Linked DNA regions of Homo sapiens. The protein of the gene in region 2 interacts with the protein of the main gene of each other region in a pairwise test. Each region holds a gene or a part of one and is shown on either strand. Other genes may lie near its edges.

Region 1 (7,028 bases), on a different chromosome or scaffold from region 2:
CGACATCTGGGACAGGTGTCCCAGGGTTATAGGACCACGTCGTCATGTAGGACCACGTCGTCATCGGGGAGGGTCAGAGTCCCTAGGGTTGTGGGACCATATGGTCCTATATATAAATATATATATATATATATTTTTTTTTTTTGAGACAGAGTCTTGCTCTGTCACCCAGGCTGGAGGGCAGTGGCATAATTTTGGCTCACTGCAACCTCCGCCTCCCGGGTTAAAGAGATTCTCCTGCCTCAGCCTCCCTAGTAGCCGAGATCACAGGTGCGCACCACCACGCCCAGCTAAATTTTTTTATTTTTTAGTAGAGACAGGGTTTCTCCATGTTGGTCAGGCTAGTCTTGAACTCCTAACCTCAAGTGATACACCCGCCTCAGCCTCCCAAAGTGCTGGGATTGTAGGCATGAGCCACCATGCCCGGCCCATATGGCCATATCTGGGTCAGAGGCTGTGACCATGCCACACCCACAACAAGGACCACAGAAAAACCGCTCTTGCCAAGGACCTGATCAGTGCTCTCTCAAGTCTGGACCCTGAAACAGTCTTCCTATCATTTTCCACCAGGACAACTAGCCAGTGTGTCTGCCTTTTTAGAACACGTATATAAGCCGGATGTGGTGGCTCACACGTGTAATCCCAAGCATTTTAGGAGGCCAAAACAAGAGGATTGCTTGAGCCCAGAAATTTGAGACCAGCCTAGGTAGCAAAGCAAGACCCTGTCTCTATAAAACGTGAAAAAATTAGCCAGGCATGGTGGCGCACGCCTGTCATCCCAGCTACGAGGGGGGTTGAGTTGGGAGGATTGCTTGAACCCAGGAGGTTGAGGTTGCAGTGAATCATGATTGCGCCACTGCACTCCAGCCTGGGTGACAGAGCGAAACCATCTCAAAAAAGAATAATAATAAAAAAAAAAAAAAGGCCAGCGTGGTGGCCAGCACTTTGGGAGGCTGAGGTGGGTGGATCACAAGGTCAGGAGTTCAAGACCAGCCTGGCCAACATGGTGAAACCCCATCTCTACTAAAAACACACACACACACACACACACACACACAAAAAAAAAAATCAGCCGGGCGCGGTGGGAGGCGCCTGTAATCCCAGCTACTTGGGAGGCTGAGGCAGGAGAATCGCTTGAACCCGGGGGGCAGAGGTTGCAGCGAGCTAAGATCACGCCACTACACTCCAGCCTGGGCGACAGAGTGAGACTCTGTCTCAAAAAAAATAATAATAAAGTACACAAAAACTTAAAAATAAATAAAACACATGTAGACACCAAGCTTTTTGAACAAACAAGGCACAGTCGCTGGGCCAAGGGCTCAGAGCCTCTCTCTGGATCCTTCCAAACAGGCCACTCAACTCCACGGCTGCAACTCGTCCCTGGGCATGACGACGCCCCCCCACATGCCGGGGCACGTGTGGTGCCCGTTCTCTTCAGCCCCCAGGGGTGCGCCTGGGGCAGGTACCTACGCGCTAGAGACCTGCACGTCATGCCAGCTCCTGGACAGGTTCTGTTTCAGCTCCCCCAGGGTGGAGAGGCCCAGCCTCCTCTTGAGCTCTCCACAGTGCCTCTCCTTGGCTGCCAGGACCTGGCGCAGAGTGACAATTTCCTCTTCCACCTGCAAAGCATGCAGTTGACATGATGAGCCATCACTACTGCAGGAAGTGACTAACATCCTCATGCACAGTGCCATGAGTTACACAAGAACTTTCCGCTTACCAAAGCATTAACTCGTCCTAGGAATAACAGCATCTACAGCAGACATCTGATTTTTGGGTTTTGGTTTTTTTTTTTTTTTGAGATGGAGTTTCGCTCGTCGCCCAGGCTGGAGTGCAATGGCACGACCTCGGCTCACCGCAACCTCTGCCTTTCAGATTCAAGTGATTCTCCTGCCTCAGCCTCCCAAGTAGCTGGGATTACAGGCGTGTGCCACCCTGCCCGGCTAATTTTGTATTTTTAGTAGAGATGGGGTTTCACCATGTTGGTCAGGCTCGTCTCAAACTCCCAACCTCAGGTGATCCTCCCACCTCAGCCTCCCAAAGTGCTGGGATTACAGGCGTGAGCCACCGCGCCCAGCCAGCAGACATTTGTTTTTATCTGGTACTAGGAACTTGACTCCAGGGAACTATCCCATGCCCCACAACTAAATGGTTCTGGGAGAGCTACCAATCACCATGTCCATTTGTGGTCATGAGGAATGGCCCAGGATGACCATGCCAGGTTTGTCCGAGCTCTTTACTAGGACTGGGCATGGTATTAAAAAGGTGAAGACCGGCCGGGCGCAGTGGCGCATGCCTGTAATCCCAGCACTCTGGGAGGCCAAGGCGGGCGGATCACGAGGTCAGGAGATCGAGACCATCCTGGCTAACACAGTTAACACAGCGAAACCCTGTCTCTACTAAAAAATACAAAAAATTAGCCAGGCACGGTGGCGGGCACCTGTAGTCCCAGCTACTCGGGAGGCTGAGGCAGGAGAATGGTGTGAATCCAGGAGGCAGAGCTTGCGGGTGAGCCAAGATTGTGCCACTGCACTCCAGCCTGGGTGACAGAGCGAGACTCCATCTCAAACAAAACAAAACAACAACAACAAAAAAATGGTGAAGACCCTGGCCGGGCACAGTGGCTCACGCCTGTAATCCCAGCACTTTGTGAGGCCAAGGCAGGCAGATTATCTGAGGTCAGGAGTTTGAGACCAGCCTGGCCAACATGACAAAACCCCGTCTCTACTAAAAATACAAAAATTAGCCAGGTATGGTGGTGCACGCCTGTAACCCCAGCTACTCGGGAGGCTGAGGCAGGAAAACTGTTTGAACCCAGGAGACAGAGGTTGCAGTGAGCCGAGATCATGCCACTGCACTCCAGCCTAGGTGACAGACCGAGACTGTTTCAAAAACAAACAAACAAACAAAAAACAGTGAGGATCCTTTTCCCTCAGGGCTCTCAGTCTGGGCTTGGACAATAGAAGCTGGAACTGTTGGCAGCCGGGCACCGTCTGCACTCATAGAATTCCATATGCAGAGAGGAGGAGGCAGATGGACAGTGACACAGGTGACAGAAAAAAACACCCTTAAGAAAACACTTGTGTTCCTGAGGTCAGTTCCAAACCTTGGCAAGAGTCAGTTACACGAACCAAAAGGTAAATTATCTTTTGTGCTTAACGTAGTTAGAACTGAGCAACAGAAAGATTCCTGATCATGAAGACTTGAACTTTCTCAGGTCTTTAAAAAAAAAAAAAAAAAAAAAGAACATGACCTCTGAAAGGGGCATCATTCAAAGCTTTACCACTTTAGAATGAGTTCTCAGTATCTTCAGCTCATATATGACTAGCTTCTCTTTAAAAATTCTCTTTCTTGGCCGGGTACGATAGCTCATGCCTGTAATCCCAGCACTTTGGGAGGCCGAGGCGGGCAGATCACCTGAGGTCAGGAGTCCGAGACCAGCCTGACCAATATGATGAAAGGCCGTCTCTACCAAAAATACAAAAATTAGCCAGGCGTGGTGGCATGCACCTGTAACCCCAGGTACTCGGGAGGCTGAGACAGGAGAATCACTTGAACCTGGGAGGCAGAGGCTGCAGTGAGCCAAGATCGCACCATTCCACTCCAGCCTGGGCAACAAGAGCAAAAAGTCTCAAAAAAAAAAAAAAACTCTTTCTTGCGTGTAATCCCAGCACTATGGGAGGCTGAGGCAGGCAGATTACCTGAGGTCTGGAGTTCGAGACCAACCTGGCCAACGTGGTGAAACTCCGTCTCTACTAAAAATACAAAAATTAGCCAGGCATGGTGCTGTGCGCCTGTAATCCCAGCTACTCGGGAGGCTGAGGCAAGAGAATCACTTCAACTCAGGAGGTGGAGGCTGCAGTGAGCCCAGATCACGCCACTGCACTCCAGCCTGGGCGACAGAGTGAGACTCCGTCCTTAAAAAAAAAAAAATTCTCTTTCTTGGCTGGGTACAGCGGCTCGCATTTGTAATCCTAGCACTTCGGGAGGCTGAGCCAGGTGGAGCTCTTGAGACTCGGAGTTCGGGACCAGCCTGGCCAACATGGTGAAACTCTGTCTCTACTAAAAATACAAAAATTAGCCAGGTGTGGTGGCAGGCGTCTGTAATCCCACCTACTTGGGAGGCTGAGGCATGAAAATCACTTGAACCAGGGAGGCAGAGGCTCCAGTGAGCTGAGATCACGCCACTGCACTCTAGCCTGGGCGACAGAGCAAGACTCTGTCTCAAGAAAAACAACAAAAAAAAGCAATACAGAACTTCACCTTGTAGGGGCCGGGCACAGTGGCTCACACCTGTAATCCCAGCACTCTGGGAGGCCAAGGTGGGTGGATCACAAGATCAGGAGTTTGAGATCAGCCTGGCCAACATGGTGAAACTCTGTCTCTACTAAAAATACGAAAATTAGATGGGCAGGGAGGCACGCGCCTGTAATCCCAGATATTCGGGAGGCTGAGGCAGGAGAATCGCTTGAACCTGGGAGGCGGAGATTGCAGCGAGCCGAGATCACACCATTGCACTCCAGCCTGGGCGACAGGGCGAGACTCTGTCTCCAAAAAAAAAAAACAAACCCCATCTCGACTAAAAACACAAAAAAATTAGCCGGGCGTGGTGGTGGGCGCCTGTAGTCCCAGCTACTCAGGAGGCTGAGGCAGGAGAATGGCGTGAACCCGGGTGTTGGAGGTTGCAGTGAGCCGAGATTGCGCCACTGCACTCCAGCCTGGGCGGCAGAGACTCCGACTCAAAAAAAAAAAAAAAAAAAAAAAAACTTCACCTTATTGTAATTCAACTCTGAAAAAAACCTTGTGGATTTAGTTTCTAAACTCACATATTCTGAAGTTAAATGGAAAGCAAAGTGTCCTTGGACTTCCTGCTACTCTCCTTTAATCTTCTAGGCTAGAAATAGCTGTGTGATGTCCTCAGGATCTGAAACCTGGTCCTCAGACTCAGCGGCACAACCAACCTTACTCAGACCTAGGCCTGGACCCAGATTCTGGAATTAAACCACATCACAGGGTGAAAAGAAAACTCTTGGCAGTTGGTTTGACTAAAAATTATGGTTGGAGGCTTTTGTTCTTAATTCCTACATTACTCTTAAGGGACTCTCACTTAAAGAAGATCACATAAATACTTTTTAGAAAAGAAGTTTTTGTTTTGTTTTTGAGACAGGGTCTCGCCCTGTCACCCAGGCTGCTGTGCAGGATGCAATCACAGCTCACTGAAGCCTTGACCTCCTGGCCTCAAGCAATCCTCTCACCTCAGCCTCCTGAGTAGCTGGGACTACAGGCACATGCCACCACACCTGGCTAATTTTTGGGGGTAGAGACAAGGTCTCACTGTGTTGCCCAGGCTGCTCTCAAACTCCTGGGCTCAAGTGATCTTCCCACCTTACCACCCTGTCCTCCTAAGGCGCTGGAATTACAGGCATGAGCCACTGCATCCAGCCAAAATAAATATGTTTAAAAGAAAACTTAAGATCCAGGACAAGAAAGATTCATGGGGTCTTAAAAATGATTATCAAGTGTTAATTCCAACAGAGACACTCCCAGCAGATGGCTGCTCAGAGGCGGTTCATGTGTGAACACTCCTCAGGGAGCACTTAGGAAGGGCCAGGCACAGAGGTATGGGAAGGGAGTCATGCCCTGTCTCCACTGCCAGGTGGCTCTGAGTCCAGTGCATGGAGCTGGGCACATACAAAGAGAACCCCGTTATCAGTCGGAACACAGAGCAGGGTAGGTGACCACCCAGGGCAATTCCTCCCGAGCGTGGCCAGTACCCTGGCCTCTCACTAATCCAAGAGGGCCTTAACTCCAATTCACCCCAGGACAGACAGCCAAGCCACAGCACCTTGGTAAGCTCAGCCCTGAGCTCCTCCTCCTCAGCCTCTGTCAGACCCTCAACAGCAGGAGTCCGGGCAGCCACACCTGTGTCGACAGGAACATCCGTCATGGAGTCAGACAGCAGACCTTTGTTAGGAGAATTCAGGTTGATATCTGCCAGAGACAAAATGAGGCCACAAAGTGTCAAATAAGTTAGTTCCAAGTAAATACGGTAGAGGTCTCTAGCAGGACAAAAGCACAGGTGGGAGTGGGTGAGACCCTGGAGACTAACACCTCTTCTCTGAAAGGTCTGTGAGGACAGCATGGGCAGTAGACGAGGGCAGCCACACCTCAGACCACCTGAGCTGAAAAGCCAATGCCACTTGTGCTGCTTCAGGGCACGACAAATGCCGGCCCAAGGCAGGCAAACCCGAATTCTGGCTTCCCAGTGAGAATACTATCGTCAGAGGCAGGAAACCCTTGCTACAGAGAAAGCAGCTCAATCTAACAGACCTTCCACCTTTTTTTTTTGATGGAGTCTCACTCTGCCTCCCAAGCTGGAGTGCAATGGTGCGATCTCAGCTCACTGCAACCTCCGTCTCCCGGGTTCAAGTGATTCTCCTGTCTCAGCCTTCGAGTAGCTGGGATTACAGGCGCACGCCACCACGCTGGCTATTTTTGTATTTTCAGTAGAGACGGGGTTTCGTCATGTCGGCCAGGCTGGTCTCCAATTCCCGACCTCGGGTGATCCGCCCGCCTTGGCCTCCCAAAGTGTTGGGATTACAGGTGTGAGCCACCATACCCTGACAAATTTCCACTTTTTTTAAAAAAAGGAACCTAATATGGTTAATATACACAATAAGCATCACTTTCCTCTCAACACATCTGACAGAGCACATGCTAAAATTACGTACTAGGAGCACATGCTGCTCATTCAGCTCCTTCAGGGAGGCAGCAAAACAAAATTCCCTTTACTTACCTCCCGATTCTCATCCCACTGCCAGAAGGCCGCCAGCAGGCAGAGAGGTGCAGAGCGGTGTGCTGCCACCACACACCTCAACTACACCCAGATCACATTCAAATTCCTGCAGCCACTGTTTTTTCTTCATGTCAAATGCATCTTCCTGACTACCCTAAAAGTCTACAAGATTTCACATAAAGAAAAACAGTCTATTTCGATTCTCTCCAAATCCAAGCACATGACTATTGTA
Region 2 (7,028 bases):
AGCTGAAGGATCCTCTAGAATTCTATTCTTAGACTTCTGGTTACAATCTCCACTGAGGCTCCTGTTTAGGGGCTAGAAATAACAGCTTAAATAGCTTTTGTAAAGCCTTGGGTCTTTTTGAGAATGGTCTATAGCCAGCCCCTGACCTAGTGGGTAGAACCAAAAATAGCAGTTACAAAGCTATTGCCTAAGCCCATAAACTTGCAGTGTAGCTGGAGGACTGGGCACTGAGCAAAAGCAAACCCTGATCCCAAGGCCAGCTGGATAAACTATGCAACCTCATTCTTAACAGAGAACCCCGTAGTCTTTACAGATCCCTGAAGATTCTAAGCAACAGACCTCCTACTAGACTTTTACATGTTCAAAGTCTACCACCAATGGCTAGATAAAATAACTCCCAGATAAAGTGACCAATAGGAAGGGAAGAAAGGGAATACCTTTCACTCAGGTGAACATCACCTATAAAGAGTGATCTAAAAAAAATTCACTTAGCCCCTTAAAAATTGAAACTGCATGCATAAATTTCCCTTTAATAAGCAAGTTTATCCATTTGTTTGTTCATTTTGTTTATTCCTTCAACAAATACTTATTAAGCACCTACATATGTGCTAGGCACTCTTCTAAACACATGGGTTTCAGCAGCCAACAAAACATATAAGGTTTCTGTTCTTAGGAAGCTTACATTTTAATGGCAAAGACAGACAATAGATAAATAAATAATCTGATAATAAGGATATAAAGATATGAAGATGGTAAAGCGGACCAACATGGTTGGTTTGTTTCTGAGTGACATACAAATCCAAGTACAGAGAAAGAATTCATTCTTCAGGGAGAGGAAGAGGGAGAGCAGGAGAATCAGGGAAGGCTTCAGTGGGGGAGGGATGGGCAACTTGGGCCTAGAAAGGGGAGCAGGAGTTTGAGGAGTGTGAGATGCGGGTAGTTAGAGAAACAGCATCTCTGAGTAGGTAACAAACGACCTGTGACTGAATGATATGAACTATGTTAAGATCTAAGGAAAGAGTGTATAGTCCTGATGATTTATCTTCCAGTTGCACAATTTCTTTAAGCTCATTAGCATCACCCTCACACATATTAAATATTAATTTCTCTGTGGAAATCCTTAACTTATAGTTAATAACCAAGAATAGATTAATAGAAAAATCAACAGATCAATAATTCAAAATCAGTACTTATGGCCAGGAGCAGGGGCCCCCGCCTGTAATGTCAGCACTTTGGGAGGCTGAGGCAGGCAGATCACTTGAGCTCAGGAGTTCTAGACCAGCCTAGGCAACATGGCGAAACCACGTCTCTACAAAAAAATCCAAAAAATTAGCCAGGTATGGTGGTGCACACCTGTAGTCCCAGCTGCACTCCACTGCACTCCATTCTGGGTGACACAGCAAGACCCTATCTCTAATTAATAAGTTAATAATAAAATAAATAAATATAAAATAAAATAGTCACTGAATTTATCTGATACAAACTGGGGTTCAGGGCAAGTTTTCTCCCGACAGTATTTCAGGAAAATCAGCAATTAGAAAGTTAATTATTTGGAAAATAAAACACTTCAATCTTCAGGTAAAAAGGCCTGTTTGCTTAATTATTTAACATTTTCTTTGTGACTCTCATGATACTACCTCCCAGGTATCTCAATAAATATATATTCTTTTTGAAAAGAGTATGAAAGTATAACAGAGCAAAGATGGGTATTTGCACCAAGTGATTTATTTGTATGAGTCTGAGGAAGAAAGAAAATATGTTAACTGATAAAGATTCTACAAACACACACAATTAGTAGGTTTTTTTTTTTTAACTATTTTAGTTCAGAAGATACATGGAACCCTTACACATGAGTGAGACAGTCTAATTACAGAAAACCTGTTTAGAAAATAGCAGTACTGTAGGGTCACATGACAATGTTTCTATGTTTCACATTTCAGCACATCCATTTACATCTTTCTCATACTTCTGTGTCAAGGCTTAGTGTATGTTCAAAAATTCCATTAACTAAGCTGTGCATTCTACAACAAATACTCGAAAGAATCTTAAAATAAAGTAAGAATAATTGTAGAGATTAATAAATTGAGACTCAGGGTGATTAAACACTTTGTCCAAGGTGTCATTGTTGGGATTCAATCTCACATCTGTTTGAGTCATAGTCTTATCATGCTATACTACCCTTCCAGTAAATACTTGCTGATTTCCAAAATTAGTATTTTCTATTTCTATTACTATTATCCAATCATATTCTGTGCTTCCTTTCTCCTATGTCTGTTCGCAGCACTCTGGACAGCTTTCTCCCCCAGATCACTTCTGCTTTCTACAAGATATTCAATAATTATTCACCAAAATTAGTAAACTAAATCCTATCATGAATGAATAAAAGGGAGGAAGACACACAATAAGGACATTGCTAATGCTATCATATTTTAAAATTGAAATTATAAATTTAAATCTTATTACTTAAATATATAATTGTAAAAGACATAATATTTCCCAAATTTTATCATTGGTGGAAGCAAAAGGATTTTTCCATAATTAATCAGAAGTACACTTTATTAAGATAACAAATACAATATTTAATACATTTTCTCTAAAGCACTGTAAATAATGCGTCTACTACAGACACTAGGAGTCATCTCAACTAAATTAATATTTAAATTACTAATCAAAAATATTTATGGCTTCTACAGCAAGATGATCAGCATCTGATGTACTTCTTGCCCTCAAGGATTTTATGATCTACTAGGAGAATACTGCCTTGACTCAAACAAAATTATAATAATGGCACCTTTTCAGAAGGGCAAAAGACCTATTAATTCTTTCTTTTAAAAAAAGATCCCTTTCCTAGTTACCAAAAAATTTTAAATTAACCCATAAAAATTTTAGTTTTCAACATCTTCAAGTCAAAAATCATTACTGATTTTGTAATCTCTTGATAATAGGTATTAATGAGAAACTAGTTGATTTTAAGCATATCTTTTAATGAATAGATGGCAGTATAGTTTAATAATTAAGAACTTTTGTGTAAACAACCTAAAATAAAAGGCAAACTGTAAATAAGCATCTTCTTAGTAAGTCATTAAACTCAATGTTTTCTAAAATATAATTTGATACCTAATTTTTTCATATTTCATTTGTAATATGGCAAAGTGGCATAAGAATAAAAGTTTAATCCCCTTTTATATATTTTCTCTAAATATTGCTTTGCGGAAAGAATTGTCTTTGAGTCGGCTACATTATACCAGGCACTGTAATCCTTCTTTTACTACAGGATAGGCATATAACCCACATTATTAAATAAGGAGCCTGGATTCCAAACTCTACTTTTAGAAAAAAAAAAGACTACAAATAAAATGGGTGTGTGATCAAAGACATCTATTTAATGCAAACTCTAATCACCAGTATTACTAAAGGGTAATACTCTAAAAGTAATTTAAATTTCTTGGAAAATATGTAACACAGATTCTGAATAATGTATTAGTAAACTGTAAGGTGCATCTTTCTCCATTGGTTCCCAATTTTGGCTGTTCTTTAGAATTACTTGAGGGAGCTTTAGAAAACACTGATGTCTGGTCTGATCCAACCCCTAAGATTCTAATTTAATTGGACTGGGGTGTAGCTCATATATTGGCATTTATAAAGATTCCCCAAGCATTTTAAGTGCAGCCAAGACTGAGAACCACTGTTCTAAACTCATTCATAACTATTTAAATATGTATCGCTTGGTTTAGTGCATGCTGCATTACTTTACTTTCCTCTTTGGCCCATTTAGGAATTTCAGCTGTTATTACTGTTACTTCACTGTGCTGGAGTTTTGCTTCAAATATATTAACTGTGTTGAGGTTCTTTCAGTAAGCTGGTCTCCAAAGAATATTAAAGTAATTGACTTAGGTGTTTGATCATTTTAAATATAGTAGCAAAGCAACTAGGAGTACATCAGTTGGGTGTGGTTAAGAGTTTAGGATTAATTTGTAGCTCTGTCATTACCTTAAAAATACTTTCAAGAAAGGCCAGGCACGGTGGCTCATGCCTGTAATCCCAGCACTTTGGGAGGCTGAGGCGGGTGGATCACCTGAGATCAGGAGTTCGAGACTAGCCTGGCCAACATGGTGAAACCCCGTCTCTACTAAAAATACAAAATTTAGCCGGGCACGGTGGCGCGTGTCTGTAATCCCAGCTACTAGAGGGGCTGAGGAAGGAGGATAGCTTGAACCTGGGAAACGGAGATTGCGGTGAGCCAAGATCGTGCCACTGCACTCCAGCCTGGGCAACAGGGCGAGACTCCGTCTCAAAAAAAAAAAAAAAATTCTTTCAAGAAATATGATGAATTTAAAAGAGTTTTATAGATTTTCTAATTACCTTACTCATGTAGTACATAAGTGTAAATTTTAACATCAGGTTAACAAACTATCTTCTATCTATTTTACTAAAGTAATGCAAATAGCACCAAAGGATGTGAAAACAGTTTTAAGTAACACTAAACATGTAGAGTTTTTATATAACAAGAAAATGTATGGATTTCGAATGTGACATATTTTATTTATTAGAATTTAAGAAACATGGTGAAGTTGTCACGGTGTGAATTCTGTAAAAGAAATAGGATTTCAGAAGTGCTTGAGAGAGTTGTTTGGCCAAACTGAAACTCCAGGGAGGGTCTGACAGGAGCTATTGAACGGCAACATCATATTCATCTTTACATCCTTAGACACACCATGACACTTGCTGAAATAAATGGGAGATCAAGGCCAAGCTCAAAACTATATTTTAAGAACTATATTCCTTAGAAAATAGCTGGTGTTCACGAATTTCATAGTATGACTTTAATAATCAGTTTAGAGGAAATGTTAGAAAATTAAAATGAACTCCCTCCCTAAGTAATTTGATTTGAAAAATTCTTTTTAGAAAGTCTTTGCTCTTATTTTAATGATGGTGAGCAAGGTTTTGCTTCAATAAGAATTCTGAGTTAAAAACACATCTCTTGTTCCTTTATCCACTTGAAAGATTTATCAAATAAAGTTATTCACAAAATGGCTATTTAGTACAAATAAGATTTATGACAAGTTTGAGACTATTATTATGAAGTCTCTGAGGGCAGGAACAGGGTCTCATTCAGCTTTGTATCTTTCAACGCCAAGCACCTAGGAGGTACTCAATTTATACTGGTATTAGTTAACTTCAAGGTCCGCAAACAATGTTAGAAAATACTAATAAAGATACTGTTATTTAACATGCTTATTGTTGCCCTTCAAAGATTAAACTTCACATATGGATGGTAATTTGCCTGGCTAAAATGATATAAAAGATGAACCATGTTAGATGTTGTAAGAGGGGAATAAGAAACAGAGTTGATGCCTTAGCACATACAAACTTATTAAAGAAAGTCAGAGTAACAGAACTTTAGAGTTCCAAGAGATCTAACATAACAGTTCATTAGAAGAAAAGTGCCACCTCATCATTTGGAATTGAAAATGATTCACGATTTCACAGCAAGCTCTTGTGGTCTAAGAAGCCTTATCAGCTGAGATGGATTTGAAGCTATATCTTTAAAAAAAGTTTATTTTACTTTTATTTTAAAATTTTTTTTACTCTCTCCATTTTGGAGATGAATAAAGTTGTATCTTAAGGAAAGGAAAGAATAGGCAGACAGGACACTTAAGAGGAGTCTAACCATATGAACAAAAGCCTAAAATAAGTAGAAGATATTTTGGAAATTAAAAAATAATTTGGAATACAGTGTTTATATAAGTGAGAGAAAGGACCAGATTGTAAGGGAGTATTTAATGCTCAACTAAGAAGTTTGGACTAAAAAGATGGATTCTAAGAATAAATGGCATTTAAAACTCTAGTAAAATAACAATTAAGCAAGGGTGAATTACCTGATACTTTTGTATTTTACCATCTTGAGGTACTTAAAAACAAGCACCCAAATGGGCTAGTTAAGAATAAACATTCCTACTCATTTATACATTCTAGTCTAACATTCTTTTTAAAGTACCAAGGCTTATAAACAAATTTTAAAAGGAGGGAAGTGGAGTGGTGATGGGACGCATCTATGTGCTTTACTAGTTTGAGCTGACCTTTTTTTAAAACAAGAAACATGTTTAATTTTTAACTTAGAAATTTTTAAGTAAAATGGAAAACAATGTATGGCGTTGGCCAACCAAAGAATGGCATATTCCTTACGGTACAATTTGATTTGAATGAAAATTATTATTTATAAACGTGAATGTTTCTCTCTCTACTGTTCTTACTGCTTATAAAGAGATATTGGCATAGCTCTTAAGCTATTCTTAGCATGAAACTTGGTACTTTGGCATTATACTGATGTCAATGCAATTTAATGTAGGAACTCAGTGATGAAATAAATACTGAGATGAGAAAGCAGTGTTTTGTTGAAAACTACCACACAGCATTCCAAATTTCACATGTTCTATTTTAGAAGCATCCTTTTTTTCTTACAAATTTTATCTTTAAAAAAGTATTATGGAAAATGTCAAACATACAAAAGTATAACAGTATAATGAAACCTCATGAACCCATAACCAACCTTCCACAACTATCAACATTCCGTTGCTGTTGTTTCAGCGACTTCTGTTTTTTTCTTTTGAAATATTCAAACGCTAATCTCAACTGGTGTGGTGGCTCACACCTGTAATCCCAGCACTTTGGGAGGCCGAAGCAGGTGGATCCTGAGGTCAGGAGTTCAAGACCAGCCTGACCAACATGGTGAAACCCCATCTCTACTAAAAATGCAAAATTAGCTGGGCGTGGTGGAGCCTGCCTGTAATTCCAGTTACTTGAAAGACGGAGGCAGGAGATTGGCTTGAATCGGGGAGGCGAAGGTTGCAATGAGCTGAGATCGCGCCATTGCACTCCAGCCTGGGCAACAAGAGCCAAACTCCATCTCAAAAAAAAAAAAAAAAAAAAATACCCTGTAAAAACCAAATCTCAGATATGATATAAGTTTATCCATAAACATTTCAGTATGTATCTCTAACAATTACAGACACATTAAAGAAGTCTGT
Region 3 (7,028 bases), on a different chromosome or scaffold from region 2:
TTTCTTAGTGAGAAAAATACATGAATAGGCACTTCACAGAAGAAAATCTTTAAAAAGCATCTGAAAAGGTGTTCAACATACTATTCCCTCAGAAAAGTGAAACTAAAATCGAGTGATACCAACTAGGCACTTAACAGATGGCTAAAATTTAAAAGACTGATTAGTGCTAAGTGAAGACAAGTGGAACTCTTCTACCTTGCTGGTGAAAGCTGAAAAATGATACAACATTTTGGAAAACCGGCAGTTTCTACTAAAGCTAAACACCCACTCAATGACCCAACAATTCCACTTGCAGGTATATAACCAAGAGAAATGGATGCATGTGCATGCCAAAAACATGTATGGCAATATTCACAGCAACTATATTCACAAAAAGCAAATCCTTAAAACAACCCAAATGCTCACTCATTCATACAATGCAATAATACACAGAAAAAAAATTTTAAACCTGATTGCCTGCAACATCAATGAATCTCACCAATTCTTTGAGGAAAAGCCAAATACAAAAGACTTCATATTGAGACCACATACTATGATTCTACATGAATGAATTAAATGGGAAAAACTGGTCTATGATATGACATAAATCAAAATAGTGCTTATAGGTAGAGGCTACAGACTTCACAGGTACAGGAGGGAATCTCATGGCCTTTGGAAATGTTCTCTTGTTGATCTGAGTGATGACTACAAGGGTGTACAGTGGTCCCCACTTATGTATAGTTTCATTTTCTGTGGTTTCAGTTACCTGCAGTCAACTATGATCTGAAAATATTAATATTAAATGGAAAATTACAGAGATAAATAATTCATAAATTTTAAATTGCACATTCTCAGTATCATGATTAAATCTCCTCTTGTCTCTCTCTGTGCCCCCTGGGGCATGAATCATCCTTTTGTCCAGGGCATCCATGCTGTCTATGCTCCCCTCCCATGATCACTTAGTAGCTGATATGGTTTGGCGATGTCCCCACCCAGATCTCACCTTGAACTGTAATACCCATAATCCCCAGGTGTCAAGAGAGGGACCCCGTGGGAGATGACTGGATCATGGGGGCAGTTTGCCCCATGCTGTTCTCCTGATAGTGAGTTCTCACAACATCTGATGGTTTTATAAGGCAGTTTTTCCAGCTTTTGCTAGCTCTCTCTTTCCTGCCATCATGTGAAGAAGGTCTTTGCTTCCCCTTCATCTTCCGCCATGACTGTAAGTTTCCTGAGGCCTCCCCAGCCACGCAGAACTGAGTCAATTAAACCTCTTTTCTTTATAAAGTACCCAGTCTTGGGCAGTTCTTTACAGCAGTGTGAAAACGGACTAATACAGTAGCCATCTTGGTTATCAGATCAACTGTTCCGATATTGTGGTGGTTGGATTCAACTAATTCTTTTTACTTAATAATGGCCCCAAAGTGCAACAGTAGTGATGCTGGCAATTTTGATACACTGAAAAGCTGTGAAGTGCTTCCTTCAAGTGAAAAGGTTAAAGTTTTCAACTTAACAAGAAAAAAAATCATATGCTGAGGTTGCTAAGATCTACCATTAATAACATATTTTCTATTCCTGAAATTGTGAAGAAGGAAAAAGAAATTAGTGCCAGTTTTGCTGTTGTCCCTCAAACTGCAAAACTTATGGTCAAAGCATGTGACAAGTGTTTAGTTAAGATGGAAAAGGCTGAGATATGAACAGAAACATGTTCCAATTGAAAGCAATTGGGTGCCACACTATCCATGGTTTCAGGCATCCACTAGGGGTCTTGCAACTTATCTCCCTTGGATAAGGGGTTAGGGGGGACTACTGTATATATACATAAAAATCATTAAACTATACATTTAAGATCAGGGTACTATATGCATTTTATGTGATTCCTCAATAAAACAGATAAATAATAAAGCCATAACTCACAAGGACAAATAGGGAAGATGAAAAGTCAACAGTACTTGGTGTCAAAAAAGGAGGCAGACAAGTGAAAACTCCCAAAACACACTTGAGAAAACAGATGCTTTAAACTGTCAGTGGGAAAATCAGAGACGCAGCTGCACTTACGTCACATCAAGAACCTCCAAAGGCATAAGAATTGATGGAATTCAATCTTCCTATGGAAAGGAAGTAGACAAAGAGCTGAAAAAAGAGGACTGGTTGAAAGCCTATTTACAAATTAGCACCCTCAGATCTTTCCTACACCAAGCAATCAGGACGCTGTTTCTCTACAGCCCTGAAAGACTGAGTGCTTTGATCTAGAAGAGTGTAAAATAAAGTGAGGATAAGAAACTATCAGGCATGATTAAGGGTAAAAACCAAAAGCAGGGGGATTAAGTGAAATGTTACACATTGATTATTGAGACCCACAGCCTTCTTCCCCACAACTTGGTAATTAGAGTTTTGGCTGCCAGGTACCCCTCAAGAAAGGAGATTGGAAGTTATCTTCTTGAGGAATCTGATCATCACCAAGAAGAAAGACACAAAGAATAGTGACAGTGAGAGTTCCCTAAGGAAAACTGTCCAAGCAATTCACCGTTCAGAAGCCATAGTTGATAGGTTCCACCCATAGAATCTCAGATCAGCTTTCTAGTGCTTCACTCACACGCACACACTCACACACAGACACACACACAGCCCAGGATCACAAAACATGAGGCAAACATCCAGTATAAAGGATTAAAAGAAGAGCAATGTAATTTGGTTGAAATGGACAATGTGCAGGAAACGTAAAAAAAAAAACCCTATCATTTATATCAACATAAAGAAAAAGAAAATATCGCATCCATAAAATAAAAAGTGGGATGCGTGCATACTGAAAGAAGGATATTCGAGTGACAAAAGGAACTCCGGGAAATTAAATATTTAAAACGCAGGAAGGAAAAACTCAAGAAGGATGAGGTCATACAATTATAGAAAATGCCCAGAAAGCAGAGCAAAAAGACAGAGATGAAAAATAGGCAATAATAAATAAGAAAATTAGGACCCAGTCTATAAGGCATATCATTTGAATAATAAAACTTCTAGAAATATGTGAGGCTGAGGCGGGCAGATCACCTGAGGTCAGGAGCTCGAGACCAGCCTGACCAATATGGTGAAACCCCGTCTAAAAATACAAAAAAATTTCCAGGGCATCATGGCATGCACCTGTACCCCAGCTACTCAGGAAGCTGAGACAGGAGAATTGCTTGAACCCGGAAGGCAGAGGTTGCACTGAGCCGAGATCATGCCACTGCACTCCAGCCTGTTCACAGAGCACGACTCCATCAAAAAAAAAAAAAAAAAAAAAAAAACCAACCAACAAACAAAAAACCTCCTAGAAATAGAGAACAGAGAAAAAATAAGGGATGAAAGAATTAAAGAAATAATTCATAGAATTTCCTAGAATTGGAAAACATGAATTTCCTAATTTAAAAAGACCAACAGGTTGGGCACAGTGGCTGACACCTGTAATCCCAGCACTTTAGGAGACTGAGACAGGAGGATCGCTTGAGTCCAGGAGTTTGAGATCAGCCTGGGCAACATAGTGAGACCAGCTCTACAAAGAAAACATCAAAAAATTAGCCAGACATGCTGGCGCGTGCCTGTAGTTCCAGCTACTCAGGAAGTGAGGCAGGAGAATCACTTGAGTGCAGGAATTCAAGGCTGCAGTGAGCTATGATCACACCACTGTACTCCAGCCTGGGTTGAAAGAGCAAGACCCCATCTCTAACAAATAAAAGTAAATAAAAAAACCAATGGGCAAAAAATAAGAAAAAAAGGGGAGGCTGAGGTGGGCAGATCACAAGGTCAGGAGATCGAGACCACCCTGGCTAACAAGGTGAAACCCTGTCTCTACTAAAAATACAAAAATATTAGCCAGGCGTGGTGGCAGGCGCCTGTAGTCCCAGCTACTCAGGAGGCTGAGACAGGAGAATTGCTTGAACCCGGGAGGCGGACCTTGCAGTGAGCCGAGATCACACCACTGCACTCCAGCCTGGGCGACAGAGCAAGACTCTGTTTCAAAAAAATAAAAATAAATAAATAAATAAGAAAAAAAGATTTCACACCAAGAAACATACCATGACATTTTAGAACACTAAGCTCAAAAGGATCATCTTTAAAATACTTACACACAAAAAAAGAGAGAGAAGTAAGAGTGCTAAGGAACTTCTTAAAGGCAACAATAGAAGAAGGAAATTATACATTTAATTCATAATTCTGAGTAAAAATAGCTTCTAAACCCAGCCAAGTGATTGCTCAGTTATTACATCTTCTGTTTGCTGGGTACCATGTTTGATGAAAGGAATCCCAAGACTGATGATGAGTTTCCAAGATAACAATTAGGCAAACACTCCAGGGTGGAGTAGGAGACAACAGAAAAGAATTTTTTAAGAAAGTAAAACTGATAGAATACCTAATGTGATTGTAAGCTCTGAAAAAAGATCTACACAACTGTGAGAGTATTCAGGGTTCCATTAGTAATAATTAAAAACTAAGGATTAACTCTAGGGAAAATGATGTTGAGCAAGAAATAAAAAGTAATCATAATGTACTAAATGTTTCAGTTTTGATTGGTGTCATAATATACACAATGAATCTCAATATAAACAAAATTATGGTACAACCATATTGAAAGATGGGAAGATGGATGGATAAAAAGTTTATGTGCATGCGACAAAGGATGAAAGAGATAAAACTTCATCTTTCTCACTGAGAAGTTAATGGACAGTGCCTAAAACTGAAAAAGTGCCAATATATTCGCACTGTTTAGAGTACAAAAAAGACCAAAAGAATTGGGTAAGAAAAATGATACAAGCTGACTTTGGGAGGAAGGGGTAAGATTTTTCTTAAATCTATGTGTATGATAGAAAATTTAATTACTATTAAAAAAGTAAATGGAAGCTTTAGAGCAACTATGTCAAACAGAACTGTAATGCAAGCCACATATGTAATTTATACTTTTCTAATAACATTAAAAAGGTAAAAAACAGGTGAAGTTAATTTCAATGATAGTATCTTATTTATCCAAATATATCAAAAATATTATTTCAATATGCAGTTAATATAAAAACTTTCAGTTAAATATTTTAGCTTTCTTTTTTTTGGTATGAAGTCTTCAAAACTCAGTATGTGTTTTACACTGAAAAGATAGTTCAATTCCAACTAACCCCATTGCAAGTGCTCAATATCCACATGTACCTAGTGGCTACTGTCATTAGATGTGGCAATTCTTTTCCTGTGATCTCATGAAAACTTACGATAGAAGAATTTCACTGATATGAAACTATTTTAGCAGCAATCTACACTATGAAAGCACAGAAGCATCACAGAAAGCATTCATTAAAATTGGTCTAGCTTCCGATTAATAATATAACTATACTTTCTAACCTGAAGTGCCACTAGTCAGCCTTATTATGCAACAACTTCATGGTAGTCAACAGAATATATTCAGTACCCAATTTAGAAAATACCATATACAATTGACCATATACAGACCCACGTATTTGCTCTACCCCACAACCCCTATCAATATTAACAATCTCTTCTCCTGGAATACTATCCTGTTGTGTCATAAGATTGCCACATCTTTCCAAAGAAACCACAAGACAGGCATTTTGTATTTTATCTTCCTCAGGATACAAGGAGGCCCAGACTAAGGCAGCAGAAAGACAGCAGAGGTTAAATAGGCATCTGTGAGTTGATTGGGAGCTTCACCAGCATCATTAAATTTGTCCAAATGACTTGAACAGGGTCTTGAACAACACTGTGACTTGGCACCCACTTTTGTGCTACATACGATAGGACACCACTATCCCCACGCATCATTTAGAGTACTTAACATATGCTGGACAGTATGCTAGGTGTTTATCTCAATCCTTACAAACAATTCTTGATGCAATATTACTATTAGTACTACTTTGCAGAGAAGAAAATTGAAGTTTGCAAGCATTAATTGCCTTAGATCACCTGTTTTCTGAAAGACCCTGGAATTAAGAATTACTTTTACATTTTTTAAAGGTTATAAAAACAAAGAAGAATGTGCAACAGAGATCATACATGGCCCCAAAAGCCTAAAATATTTACTATCTGGCACTTAACAAAAAAAGTTTACTGACCCTGCACTAGTTTACAGAATTAAATAGTCTGATTCCAAAACAAATCCTCTAAATCAGGGTTTCTCAGTCTTGGCATGGTTGACATTTTGGGTTGGATAATGCTTTGTTAGCAGCATCCCTGATCTCTGTCCACTGGATGCCCATAGCAGCACCACCCCTCATCCCGGTTGTGACAACCAAAAACGTCTCCAGACATTGCCAAATGTACTTTGGGCAGCAAAATCGTCCCCCACTGAGAATTACCACTCTAAATGGTCTTCAAACTGGGGGATGTGTGCCCCCCAGGACAAATGAAGTCTTCCATGGGACATACACCAACGACATGTGTAATTTTAAGAAAAAGGCTTCCAGATCCTTTACTCCCATGAGTACTTCTCACTAAACTGATCTGCCTGAGAATATGCCCATTGTCCAGTTATCATGCTGATTTTTATTCCCCAAGATCCTTTCACAATCTTCCACTTTACAAAATAAAGGCATACTTCTCACCCACTCCTATTCTTACTATGGTACACTGCCCCAGGATGGAAAAGCCTCCCTACCAACAAACAATAAGTCGAAGGGCTCAAAGACCCTCCTTTAATTTAGGCACAACTCCCACTATCCATTCCATTAGGACACAGATTTCCAGTAAACTTCTACTCTTAATAATTATTATTCATTAAAATCCATCAAGTTTTTAAGCTATTCTAATCAACTATTTATAATAACTCAACCCAAAAGAAAAATTACAACTTACAGAATTAGTTATAGGAAATTTTTAAACTTAGCTTCAATTTATATAACTATTGTTATTAAAGCCATGTATCACAGAGATTAATAAAAAGCTTTCAAGCATAAAAATGCATTACCTTAAGATAATATTCTGTGGGGTGGGGGTGATAAAAAAGTAAAATTTTTTAAAAAAGGAAGTGTGTAAAATATAATGTATTTTAAAAATTGATGGTGATGGATATAAAA
Region 4 (7,028 bases), on a different chromosome or scaffold from region 2:
AGAAGAACCTTATATTCTTCTTTACTCCACCTATTTTGTAACATCTGAAATATTTTATTAAAAGACTAAAAAAGAAAACAAAACTCAAAACCTCAATAAAACAAAAACTATGACAGAATCAGAGACCTCTTTGTAGCAATTTGTTTACTTTTCTCCATAAATGTAGAGGATGGACGTGCAGTTAACAGGTCTGATTAGCTTCCTGGTCAACCCCCTAGTTTGCTAATTCAAAAGGGCTATGGCATGAAGAATGTCTTGTCTCCCACTCTAGTTACTTTCTCAAGCAATGCTTCCCTGTCCCCCCAAAATTCTGATACCCATCCATCTCTGCCACAGTGACTCACTGACACCCCTGAGAATGTTGGATTTTCTCAAGTGTGTTGACATAGAAAAATATATTGACAACTGTCTATTTGGAAGCATTCTTAAATTCTCTAACTGTAACAGGCTAACTTGATAAATTCTAGTCATTGGATTTGCTGTCACATTAGTAAGGTGGATGGTAGACGAGTTTTCATTATATGGGGAAAAGGGCCTAGAAGTCAGAGATGCCTCAAGAAATGTTAGGCTGGTTTTTTGTTTGTTTGTTTGTTTTACAGGATGTCACTCTGTCACACAGGCTGGAGTGCAGTGGCACAATCACAGTTGACTGCAACCTCAACCTCCCAGGCTCAAGTGATCCTCCTACTTCAGCCTCACGTGTAGTTGGGATGACAGGCACGTGCCCCCACGCCTGGCTAATTTTAAAATTTTTTGGTAGAGATGGTGTCTCCCTGTGTTGCCCGGGCTGGTTTCAAACTTCTGGGCTCAAGCTATCCTCTCACTTCAGCCTCCCAAAGTGCTAGGATTATAGGCATACGCTAACACTACCAAGCCCTTTAAAAGGTCTTGATAGGCTATAGATATACAACTTCGTTTATGAATTCAGAGAGAGTACTGAATTGGTGAAGTCATTGAATTAGACATGAGGAAAATAGCAAATACTAAAAATTCATAGATACTTTACCCAAATCTTAGTGCCCATCTAAGAAGCGCAGAACAATATTCTAAGAATAAGAATGATATTCAGGATGTCTCATGTCACCATCCAGTAAGTCACATGATAGTTGCCCCTAGAATCCTTTAGATACAGTAATAATGCATGTCTTTTCATCATTAACTTACTTTTCATCATTAGGAAAGATTATTTTGTCTTTTCTCAGGGCATCCATAAGTGTACGTAAAAATCCTGGAATGTTCCGGTAAATCTATTTTTAAAAAAGAAAAAAAAATTAATATTTGCCCCATAGCTATGCCATCTGTTATATAGTCTTTCACTATGAACCAGGGTAACACAGAGAGTAGTGCTTCTCTAAGTAAGGTAAACTTCACAAAAAACTTCTACGATTTAAAAAGTAATGCACGTCGGGAATTTGGAAAAAAAGAAAGGAATGTAGAAGAAACAAAGCACACATAATTCTGCCATCATAGACCATCATTGTTAACATTTTGTTTTCACTTCCTAAAAATGGCACAACTAACTCTTACTTCTCCATGTAGAAGCAGTGGTATGCAAAACCTAAAATTGCTTCTATTGTGAACATAACTGGTTTAGTTGGTGGACAGAATATTCTGATTAGTCAAAAATTCTGATGAAAATATACAATACATAGAAAATTGATTTTAGAGAATTTGAACATTACAAACTTTTGAATATGATTTAATATGCCAATGCCTTAAAAGACATTTTAGTTTTTAACAATGACCACAGGATTCCAGATATAACAATGCTCACTCTAGACATACTAAATTTGTTGTTTAATAGCAAAATCCAAGAAATAGAATGCTAGCTAAATCCACTTTTACAATGTTTTGACTCACATAGTCAACATGTAAGTTAGTTTATATGCCCTAGAAATATCCGTTTTATCTGGAAATAAGGAGTAAAGGATAAAAATCCTGAGCAATATTGCACCTTTCTCACAAACTTTGAATCCTGCCTCCAAAACTATATCCTAAACCCATTCATTTCTCCCCATCCCCACTATCACTTAGCCTAAGCCACCCTTCATCTCTTGCTTATACTAAGCTGCAATTCCAAGTGGCTCCCCGATTCTGCCTTCACCCTTCCATAATCCAGTTCCCACAGGAAAACCAGAATGATTATTTTAACGTGCAAATCAGATCGTAGCACTCTTTCGCTTAACACCCTCCAAAGGCAATTGGATTAAACCTGAACATGTCACCTTGGCCTCCAAGGCCCTGAAGAATCCGGCGGCTTCCTGCCTCCCTCTCCAGCCTCATCTCCTATCACTAAGCACCTTCCTGTCCACCTCCTGGCTCTGCTGCCTTCTGCTTCTGGAACATGTCAGGCCTGATCCCACCTCAAGGCGCTTGCCTTTACTTTTACCCCAGCCTGAGATCTCTATATTTTCCCATCAGCTGGCTTCATCTCAGGCAGGTCTCAGCTCAGATGCTATTTCTTCGGAGCTGTTTTCCATAACCAGCTACCAAACCTTGCCCCCACCACCCAGTCATTCTCCATCACATTATTTTGGTGCTTTCACAGAACTTCTCACTATTGGATTTCTTTTTTAATGTATTTATCTTCTATCTGTTTCTCCATCAACAATATGAACTTCGTAGGTAAATGGACCACAACTTTCTTATTCCCTGTGGTGTCCTCAAAAACTAGAAAAGTTCCTGGTACATAATAGACACTTCATAAATATTTGCTAAAGACAAAATGAGTCTATTGTGCAAATATCCCTGGCGTACACTTTGTTATTATCTGTCATTTTCATTTAGTATGATTGAATTTCAGATATTACTTATTTTATTTATTTGTTTGTTTATTTTGAGACAGGGTCTCAGTCTGTTGCCTAGACTGGGAGTGGGTGCAGTGGCATGCTCATGGCTCACTGCAGCGCTCAAACTCCTGGGCTCAAGCAGTCCTCCCTCCTCAGCCTCCATAGTAGCTGGGACTACAGGGGTGTGCCACCACACCCAACTAATTTTTTTGTACAGAAGGGGTTTCACCATGTTTCCTAGACTGGTCTTGAACTCCTGGGCTCAAAGCCATCTTCTGGCCTTGACCACCCAAAGGGCTGGGATTACAGGCATGAGCCACAGTGCCTGGCCCAGATTTAAATTTTTTTTTTCTTTTTTTTTTTTTTAGACAGAGTCTCACTCTGTTGCCTAGGCTGGAGTGCAGTGGTGCAATCTTGGCTCACTGCAACGTCTGCCTCCTGGGTTCAAGCAATTCTCCTGCCTCAGCCACCCAAGTAGCTGGGACTACAGGCATGCATCACCACGCCCAGGTAATTTTGTATTTTTAGTAGAGATGGTGTTTCGCCATGTTGGCTAGGCTGGTCTCGAACTCTGACCTCAAATGATCCGCCTGCCTCAGCCTCCCAAAGTGCTGGGATTACAAATCTTTGCAATAAATTTGCAAAGAGGAAAAATAAGCAAAGTATTATACATTTTCGTGTTGTGCCTGAGAGAGGAGGGGTAGAGGGGGTAGTAAATGGGACATGGCCAAGAGAAGGAAATAGGCACAGAATAGGGAGGTTGGACCCAATAAATACAAACTTCTGCTTCACAATTTTTTAAAAAGAAAAAGAAATTAAAACTTGCCCCATGGCTATAATGTCATTTGTTAATAGTCTCCTACTATGAACTGTAATAATAGAATAGAGACTTTCTAAATAGAATAAACTTAAATACAATTTTTCTGATTTTAGAAAGTAATTGATGTCATTTTAGGGAATGTGGTAAGGAAATGGGTATAAAATAGGTAAGCCAGTGCCACTAAATACAAATTGCTGCTTCATAGTTCTGGCTTAGGCCTGCTATTCCCCCAGGAATCTCCTTGGTTTTTGGTTTTATTTTGTTTTGTTTTTTTGAGACGGAGTGTCATTCTTGTTGGCCAGGCTGGAGTGCAGTGGCACGATCTCGGTTCACCGCACCTCCGCCTCCCGGGTTCAAGTGATTTTCCTGCCTCAACCTCCCGAGTAGCTGGGATTACAGGCACCTGCCACCATGCCCAGCTAATTTTTGTATTTTTAGTAGAGACAGGGTCTCGCCATGTTGGCCAGGCTGGTCTTGAACTCCTGACCTCAGGTGATCCACCCGTCTCGGCCTCCCAAAGTGCTGGGATTACAGGCGCCAGCCACCGTGCCCAGCTGGAATCTCCTTGGTTCTGTGGGATTTGTCTGGCCTGAACTTTTTGGCCTGGTCTCATAGCAACTGATCTGCATTCAGGTGTGCTCTGGACTTCCTGACACAGCCTTTCCTTCTCTTTCTTCTCCCTCCTCTTCCATGCTAAGGGCAAGATTTCTTGTTTTGTTTTCTCTTTTGTCTTCTGGTACTCTCACCCCTGGAATTAAGACTCCCCTGAGGAGAATTCAGTAAGAGAAGTCCTTCAGCAATTCATCTCAAATTCTGAAAGAGTAGGAAGAAAGCAAGCCCCGGTCAATCTACTCTCATTATTCCTCATTCCCTTCCAGCCAGGAGTGCCCTTTGAGACTCACAGGTCATACCTTCCCCTCCAGCCTAGACCATGGCAATGGGCTCTCCTAATTGGTCTTCCTACCTTCCTCTCTCTTCTGTAACACCACCAGATAAACATCCTTAAAATACCAGTTATATTAAATCTGCTGTTACGAAGCTTTGGGCATGCCACACTATCTACTGAAAACAACAACTAGACAGCAAGCCCATGCACATCTGGCCACAATCTTTCATTCCAAACCCTGCTCACCTCCAGTCTATCTGCCTGCAATTAGAAGATGTAGGTTTGAGTCTCATTTCTTCTTCTTATAAGATATGTGACAATTAGGCAAACCTATAGGTCTCCATTTCTCTCATCTCTAAGTGGAAGCAATGATGACAAACTCAGAGAGTTGCTGTGAGGATTTAAAAGAATAACGAGTGCGAAAGACTTGTGTGGAAGTCCTCTATTAACTCTCAGGCAGTTTATAACGTAGAACAGCCCCATTCCTGCCAGGGGTCTGAGTTAACATTCACCTGTTCCTCGCTCTGTTTCCTAACTGCTTTCCCTCACCTTCAAGAAAGAAGCTTAGGTCCAATAGGCTCTGAAGTCTTCATTGGCCACACCTGTGAGCAAAGCCTCTCTCTTCAGTAATTCTCCCTGCCTTGAATTCTCCCTGCCTTTTCCTGCCATACATAACACTTTAGCCTAATTTGTAACAGAAAGAGGGACGGAAAGGAACAAGTATTTGTCTAGTGCTTACTAGCAGCTGGGTACTTTACATACATTATCTTACTTAATTCAGTCTTCACAACAACCCTGTGCAGTGGTCTTCGCCAACCCCTTGGTAAAAAAATGGGAAAACTTAGGGAGAAACAATTTACCAAGGTCACAAAGGGTATGTGGCCAAGGACAGATTTGAACCCAAGTCTGAGTGGCTCCACAGCCCATACTCTTTTCCACAACATCATGCTGCCTTTCAATTCTGAGTAACAAAACTGATTCCAAAGAGACCCGTAGAAATCCCTGTTAACTTTATACCTCCTATTTATGTCCTGTTGAGATCAAGTGATAGAAAAACCTATACCATGCAAACACTAATCAAAACAAAGATATACAAATATTGGACAAAGTTGACTTTAAGTCAAGAAGCAATATTGATCACAAAAAAGGTGGACATTTTATGATGAAAATGATAAATCCACCTGGAAGATATGAAAACTAAATCATAGGCTGGGAATGGTGGCTCATGCCTGTAATCCCAGCAGTTTGGGAGGCTGAGGCAGGTGGATCACCTGAGGTCAAGAGTTTAAGACTAGCCTGATCAACATGGTAAAACCCTGTCTCTACTAAAAATGCAAAAAATTAACCAGGTGTGTTGGCACATGCCTGTAATCCCAGCTACTTGGGAGGGTGGGGCAGGAGAATAGCTTGAACTCAGGAGGCAGAGGTTGCCATGAGCTGAGATCACGCCACTGCACTCCAGTCTGGGTGACAAGAGTGAAACTCCATCTCAAAAAAAAAAAAAAAAAACTAAACTAAATCATAATATTATTAGGCTTATGTACCTAACAACATAACCTCAAAAAAACTAAAACAAAAATTAACAGTACTAAAATAGAAATAAACCATTCCACAATCATGATGAGGTACTTTAATAATCCTCTTTGAGTAACTGAAAAAGCAAGCAGTCCAAAAAACCAGTAACAATAGACAAAATTTTTTCATGCGCGTCTGTGTGAAGAGACCACCAAACAGGCTTTGTGTGAGCAACATGGCTGTTTATTTCACCTGGGTGCAGGCGGGCTGAGTCCGCAAAGAGAGTCAGCCAAGGGAGATAGGGGTGGGGCCGTTTTATAGGATTTGGGAAGGTAATGGAAAATTACAGTCAAAGGGGGTTGCTCTCTGGTGGGCAGGGGCGGGGGTCACAAGGTGCTCAGTGGGGGAGCTTCTGAGCCAGGAGAAGGAAATTCGCAGGGTTAATCACTCAGTTAAGGTGGGGCAGCTTCTGAGCCAGGAGAAGGAAATTCACAGGGTTAATCACTCAGTTAAGGTGGGGCAGGAACAAATCACAATGGTGGAATGTCATCAGTTAAGGCAGGGCAGGGCCTTTTCACTTCTTTTGTGATTCTTCAGTTACTTCAGGCCATCTGGGCGTATATGTGCAAGTCACAGGGGATGCGATGGCTTGGCTTGGGCTCAGAGGCCTGACATTCCTGCCTTCTTATATTAATAAGAAAAATAAAACAAAATAGTGTTGAAGTGTTGGAGCGGTGAAAATTTTTGGGGGGTGGTATGGAGGGAGAATGGGCGATGTTTCTCAGGGCTGACAGGTAAAACGGGGGAATTGTAAGGAGAGTTTATAGGCTTTAAAAGGCCATGCTGTAGCAGGTGAGTGATAACAGGCTTTAATCTTTTTAAAGCATGCTGCAGGACGGGATATTGGCGTTGAGTGGGGTAAGGGTGATTAGGTTTTAATGAGATGGTAAGGGGTGCATGATCGGTCACCAAGGAGGGAGTAGAGGTATCTTATACTTGTGGGTTAAGGTCGGGGGAT

Evidence for each region.
Region 1: the proteins of SH3GLB1 (region 2) and TPD52L2 interact in binary tests that used the Homo sapiens proteins (3 or more experiments, as listed by UniProt).
Region 3: the proteins of SH3GLB1 (region 2) and SPART interact in binary tests that used the Homo sapiens proteins (3 or more experiments, as listed by UniProt).
Region 4: the proteins of SH3GLB1 (region 2) and ABHD12B interact in binary tests that used the Homo sapiens proteins (3 or more experiments, as listed by UniProt).

The regions. Positions count from the first base shown.
Region 1 is NC_000020.11:63,868,259-63,875,286, reverse strand, and holds part of TPD52L2 (tumor protein D54), read right to left. Parts: intron 5,992-7,028; coding exon 5,846-5,991; intron 1,620-5,845; coding exon 1,471-1,619; intron 1-1,470.
Region 2 is NC_000001.11:86,707,548-86,714,575, reverse strand, and holds part of SH3GLB1 (endophilin-B1), read right to left. Parts: intron 1-7,028. UniProt on the Homo sapiens protein: May be required for normal outer mitochondrial membrane dynamics. Required for coatomer-mediated retrograde transport in certain cells. May recruit other proteins to membranes with high curvature. May promote membrane fusion.
Region 3 is NC_000013.11:36,336,390-36,343,417, forward strand, and holds part of SPART (spartin), read right to left. Parts: intron 1-7,028. UniProt on the Homo sapiens protein: Lipophagy receptor that plays an important role in lipid droplet (LD) turnover in motor neurons.
Region 4 is NC_000014.9:50,896,048-50,903,075, reverse strand, and holds part of ABHD12B (protein ABHD12B), read right to left. Parts: exon of another isoform or gene 6,236-7,028; intron 1,248-6,235; coding exon 1,165-1,247; intron 1-1,164.